2 separate regions of the Homo sapiens genome follow, and region 2 is linked to region 1. Evidence: fine-mapped expression QTL. A gene starts in region 1. The other region holds a variant in brackets. All regions are shown on one strand. Distances are between the middles of the regions. Region 1 holds the start of TP53TG5 (TP53 target 5). Region 2 holds the start of DBNDD2 (dysbindin domain containing 2).

The links. PIP is the estimated chance that this variant, and not a neighbour inherited with it, causes the effect.
Region 2: its variant is fine-mapped to the expression of TP53TG5 in putamen (GTEx, PIP above 0.99).

Annotation. Positions count from the first base shown.
Region 1 is chr20:45,376,553-45,379,564 of GRCh38, reverse strand. TP53TG5 (TP53 target 5) reads left to right here and starts at 1,240. Exons shown (of 5, transcript NM_014477.3): 1 at 1,240-1,376; 2 at 1,952-2,026; 3 at 2,223-2,353. The coding sequence starts at 1,329. All of the region lies in intron 3 of SYS1-DBNDD2 (SYS1-DBNDD2 readthrough (NMD candidate)), which reads right to left. It also overlaps a transcript of SYS1 not described here.
Region 2 is chr20:45,406,950-45,409,449 of GRCh38, reverse strand. DBNDD2 (dysbindin domain containing 2) reads right to left here and starts at 1,161. Exons shown (of 3, transcript NM_001048225.4): 1 at 844-1,161; 2 at 512-649. The coding sequence starts at 982. It overlaps SYS1-DBNDD2 (SYS1-DBNDD2 readthrough (NMD candidate)), which reads right to left. Exons shown (of 6, transcript NR_003189.2): 4 at 844-990; 5 at 512-649. LOC107985404 (a long non-coding RNA gene) reads left to right here and starts at 1,561. Exons shown (of 5, transcript XR_007067608.1): 1 at 1,561-1,701. RefSeq lists an enhancer at 2,024-2,500. The variant G/A (reference allele first, on the strand shown) is at 1,225.

The DNA.
Region 1 (3,012 bases):
AAACATAAGCAAGTGTCCTGCCCATAGCTATTCGATTGTAAATAACAAAAAGAATCTGAGAAATATATCTCCAGTATTCAAAAACTATGGTCTAATTCAGCAAATAGGTCAATGAAATCATTGATAAATGAGTTAAATTTCAATATCTCTGTTGTTTCACTTTTTCACCTTCTTCTTACTGTTTAGTGTAAATGAAAATACAAACATTAATGTTGGTATTATACTTGTTTATCCATTACAACCATAGGTTGGCTATAAATGGAGGGGTTAGGCAAAATCCAAGAAAAGCATACTATAAGAAGCAACTCACTAATAGAAGTTACAATAAAGAGTATTATAGGATTCTATTATTTGTTGATTTCTATCAGTAAAATTTATAATACAAACACATATACATTTTGCTTCAGAGAGCCAATTATTAAACATTTACAAGTACACACACTGTTTCCCCTCCACTAGAATGTAAGCTTGAGGGCAAGAATTTTCTGTTATTCTAGCACTTAGAAAAAGCACCTGGCAAGGCCAGGCGCGCTGACTCATGCCTGTAATCCCAGCACTGTGGGAGGTGGAGGTGGGCGGATCACAAAGTCAAGAGATCGAGACCATCCTTGCTAACATGGTGAAACCCCATCTCTACTAAAAATACAAAAATTAGCCGGACGTGGTGGCGGGTGCCTGTAGTCTCAGCTACTTGGGAGGCTGAGGCAGGAAAATCGCTTGAACCCAGGAGGCGGAGGTTGCAGGGAGCCAAGATCTCACCACTGCACTCCAGCCTGGCGACAGAGTGAGACTCTGTCTCAAAAAACAAAAAACAAAAAAAGAGAAAGAAAAGAAAAAGCACCTGGCATGTAGCAGGCGCCCAGTCAAAACAGGCGACATGACTGAATGGATGAGCATGGTTTGGGAATCCCTGGTTTCATGGGTTGACTATCAGACCTTGGTTAGGTTTCCAGCCCACTATGATCTAGCTGGGCTAGATCTAGTGTGGCCTTGAGTAGATTATTCAACCTCTTTGAACCCTGGCTTCCTCATTTAAAAAGAGGGGATAATCCTCTTACCCCACAGGGAGGTTGTGACAATGCACACAGCTGTCTGTCGCCTATTGTCTATATTTCTTTCTCACCCTCTACCCCTCACCTCTGCCACATACACTCCTTGGAGACCCAGCCCTGCTACTGTCACATTTCAGTGATGTCACAGCTGCAGGTGGTACAGAGCCAGCACCACCATCTGATGCCCAGCCTGAGTGCTGGCTGAACTGAGAGGAACAGGGTTGGTGCCTGGCACTGGTGTTGCTCCATTCATCTCTGAGGTCTCACAGCCCCAGCATGAGTCCATCAGCAAAGAAGAGGCCCAAGAACAGCAGGGTTTCCAAGGTCAGACTTGGGACTAGACCCTGGGGGTGAGTCCCTAGAGGGGACCTTAACAAAGAATCCACCATGCCAAGGAAAGGGGCTTTCCAGCATGGGAGAAAAGGAAAAGGTGAAGGGTGAAGGGAGGTCAGGAGAGTTAAAATGGTCTCCCAGTTCTGTCCCCAGACCAAGATGACAAAACTCCCAGCCTAGGATTGGTCAAACCATGCTCAGCCAAATGAAGAGGCACATGGAGGAGTTCAGGAGGATTCCTCCAGTGCCTCACTCTGTCGCCCAGGCTGGAGTGCAGTGGCGAGATCTCAGCTGACTGCAGCCTTCACCTCCTGGGTTCAAGTGATTCTCCTGCCTCACCCTCTTGAGTAGCTGGGACTACAGGCGCATGCCACCACACCTCGCTAATTTTTGTATTTTTTTTTTTGGTAGAGTCAGGGTTTCACCATGTTGGCCAGGCATCTCAAACTCCTGACCTCAAATGAGCCACCCACCTCGGCCTCCCAAAGTGCTGGGATTACAGACATGAGGCACCACACCTGGCTGATTCCTCTGGGTTTATGTCTCTCTTATCCTCTGTCCCTCAGATGCAAGATGAGAAACTGCGGGACGAGACAGAGCAGCCTGTGAGCAAAGTAATTGAGCGGAACCGTCTGAGAACGGTGAGACGCCCTGTTTTGGCCCCAGCTTGGGGAAGCTCATATACTCATGCAGTACTGCCCCTGGTTGCCAGGCTGAGTGGCCCAGGGGAGCCAGCAGGCCGGCCCTTGGCTGAGCGGAGCCAGAGGCAGGCAGGGGAGAGGGAGGCTGTCCAGGAAAGCTGAAGCTTCTATTTACCTGGTTTCTTGACCCTGGCAGGTGTTAAAAAACTTGTCGCTCTTGAAGCTACTCAAGAGCTCAAACCGCCGGATCCAAGAACTGCATAAGCTGGCCAAAAGGTGTTGGCATTCACTGCTCAGTGTTCCAAAGATTCTCCGCATCTCCTCTGGGTAAGCTGGGGCCTGGCCCCCATAATGGACCCAAATGCCGTCTTTCTGGGAACAGGCATTGTGCTAAGGCATTTAGAGAACAAGTCTAATTTTCACAAAGCCTCTGTGAGAGAGGTATTTATTAACTCTATTTTACTGCTGGAGAGCTGAGGCTGAAGAGGTGAAGTGACTTGTCTCATTCAGTTAACTCAACTGATAAGTGGCAGAGCTAGGATGTGAAGCCATTCCTGTCTGATATTAGAGCTGTGGCCATAACAATGGTTGTAATCATCCAGTTGTGGTGCTCACTTCACCCTGGGGCACTGAGACAGACAGGTTACTCCTCCTCCTCCTCCCCTGCAAGTCAATATAACCCAGAGAGTCACCTGCAGACTGACCCCTGAAATCTGAAGATTAATCTTGCTGAGGCTTGGTTTCTTTATTAATTTATTTTTATTTTTATTTTTTTTTACCATGCCTCCGAGACAAGTTCAAACCGTTTCCTCATAAGTCACATGACAGTATTAAGAAAGCTAACATTGATTGGTGCCTGCTAAGTACCATCCTACAGTGTTAAGCACTTAAGAATTTTCCCATTTAGTTTATTCTTCACAACAATCCTGTTAGGTAGACAGAATTATCCTAGTTTTACAGATAAGGAAGCTAAGGCTCTGAGAGGT
Region 2 (2,500 bases), 30 kb before region 1:
CCAGTTTATCTACCTTCTGGCTACAATGTGACTTAACTTCTCTGAGCCTAATTTCCTGCTTATAAAATAGAGATTATATCACCTACCCTGACAGGACGTTGTAAGGATTGAGATAATATATGTAAAGTACTTTAGTACAGTATTGGAACCTACTAAAGTACTCAATACATATTAATATCATTATAATGACTAAAACTACTTAAGTTGCCAAATATAAAAATTACAATTTTACATTATTTTAATTATAGTGACTAATTATATTAATATAACAAATGTAAAATTAAAGAAGAGATTGACCGTTCCCAGAATTTTGGATTAGAGATGTGTAACCCAGTTCTCCCTCAGGGTCAACTTCCCTAAAATCAGAACAGGCAGCTGTTTCATTGGTAGAAACACCCACTTCCAGCCCTTACTTGTGTACTTCCCCAGCCCAGCCTTGTAGCCTCGTTTCAGAGCCTGACATCCGGCTCTGGCTGACTGGCACTGAAGTCCCCAAAGCAGAGGGGCATACCAGACGACTGGGGGGTTGGTGGAGGATCTTCGCAAGGCAAGAACACATCTGCTGCATCCGGGTCCCCAAGGTCAATAAGTTCTACTTGCTCCAGTGTGTCCACATTCACTTCCATGGATGAGATACTACCTATGGGGGCTGCGGATCAAGAAGTGGGCAAGTCAGGAGGACCCAAGCTGCACACCAGGACAGTGAGAGTTACATGTCAGGTCCCAAGTTAGAAGCATAGAGGGCCAAGAAAACCAGAGGGGAGAGAGTGCCACAAGATTCAGGACCCACAGGACATCCTCCCTACCCTACCCCAGTCCCTCTTCTCAGGACTTGGGACTTACGTCTCTGCGACTCGAGATGCAGATGGGACAGAGGAAAGACAAACTCTGTCTCTGGCTGTAAAATGTCCTCGAAGAATTTTTGCCGCTCCCGAAGGCGGAGCTGCTGGCGCTCCAGGGCGGCCCGAGGATTTGGGTCCATGTCAGCTCCTGCGGGTAGAGGAGCAAAACAAGTACAGCTGCAAAGTCGAAAGAGAAGACAGAGGGGACCTGGGCTTGGGGCGCCCCACTGCAGCCAGCATCCCAACAGTGGGGCCCCTGGCTCCGGCCTGGACACCTCTGCCCTTGGTGACCTCTTTCCCCTTCCCTGAAACCAAGTGTGTCCCACAAACCAAGTCTCATGCAGAGGCGGGGCTTGCCCTAAGCTCCACAAAGGGGATGCCA[G/A]TTCCAGGCACCACAAGAGAGATACTCTGTATTCAGGGAACACAGCCAATGCCCAACTCTCCATATCATGCCCTCCTGAGAGGGGTTGGAGGGATTGGTTCAGCACAAATGGAGGAGGTACGTTTTCCCCTTAATTGGCCCCGCTTGCCTCAGAAGGCCAGGGACAGGATAGGATAGAGACAGAGATCTCAGGGTGGAGGGTTCCCTTCCTCCAGTGCTGCAGCCCACCCCTTCCCATCCTTCAAAACCCAGACAAAGGCTAAAGCAACTCCTCCCGCGCCCCTCCTTTTCTCTCCACCCACACAAACACGTACACACGCATGTGCCATCTACCCCAAACCCTTGCTCTGAAGTCACAGGCCTGACTTCCAGACTAGGCTCTGCCCCTAAGGAAATCACCTTTCTGGTCTTAGTCTCCCCATCTGAAAATGGCATAACCAACCTACCTGCCTCAAATACAAGACCCTGCTTGTGAAGGTGAGCTATTTAGGAGACTACCATCTTTCCTTTGAACTCCAACAGCTCTTTATGCGTCCCCCTCCTGGGACACATCTCACTGACTTATCTCCCCATTAGTCAGTGAGGAGCAATTGGAAAGGCGGGTTCTGGGTCCAGTTCAGAGCAGGCCTCCTGACCCCTAGGGCTGAGAAGCTGAGACCCTGCCAGAGCACTGAGGCTATGGGCCAGCCCAGGTCGGTGCATTCATTCCCATTCGCTCATCTCCTTCCCGGCGTTCTGCTCTGAGCCCATCACCAGAGGCAAGGGAGTTTCTAGCTTGAGGATCAGACGTCATCCTCCGCAGACTGCCTTCCCCACCTCATCTGCACCCAGCGTATCCCAGACCCTGGCCAGCTCCACGGGCGCCACAGAGGTGGAGAGGGACCCAACCCCGACTGGCCAAGGCAGGGCCACGGAAGTCTGGGGAGACCGTGCGGCCGCGGGCTGGCGGCGGAGGAGCGAGGCGCTGACGCCGATTCCCGGGAAAGGCTCTTAGAGCTGCCGCCCAGGTCACAACGCTAAAAATACCCAGGGCCCCTGGAGCCTGTGCTCCAGCAGCGAGGAGGGGGAGGGAGAGGCCAAGGTGGGGGAGCTGACGGGGGCCAGGGGCTCTGGGACACCCCCTCTCTTTTCCCCTCCCCCTAACCCCACCGATCTCACGAGACTGAAGGAGCTGTCCCCCGGGGGGCCGCGGAGCCCAGAGCTGGAGAAAGGGAGTTGTTTACGCGACCTATAGGTACTGGAAAGGGGGTGAAGAGATTTGGGGGCAGGAGGCTGC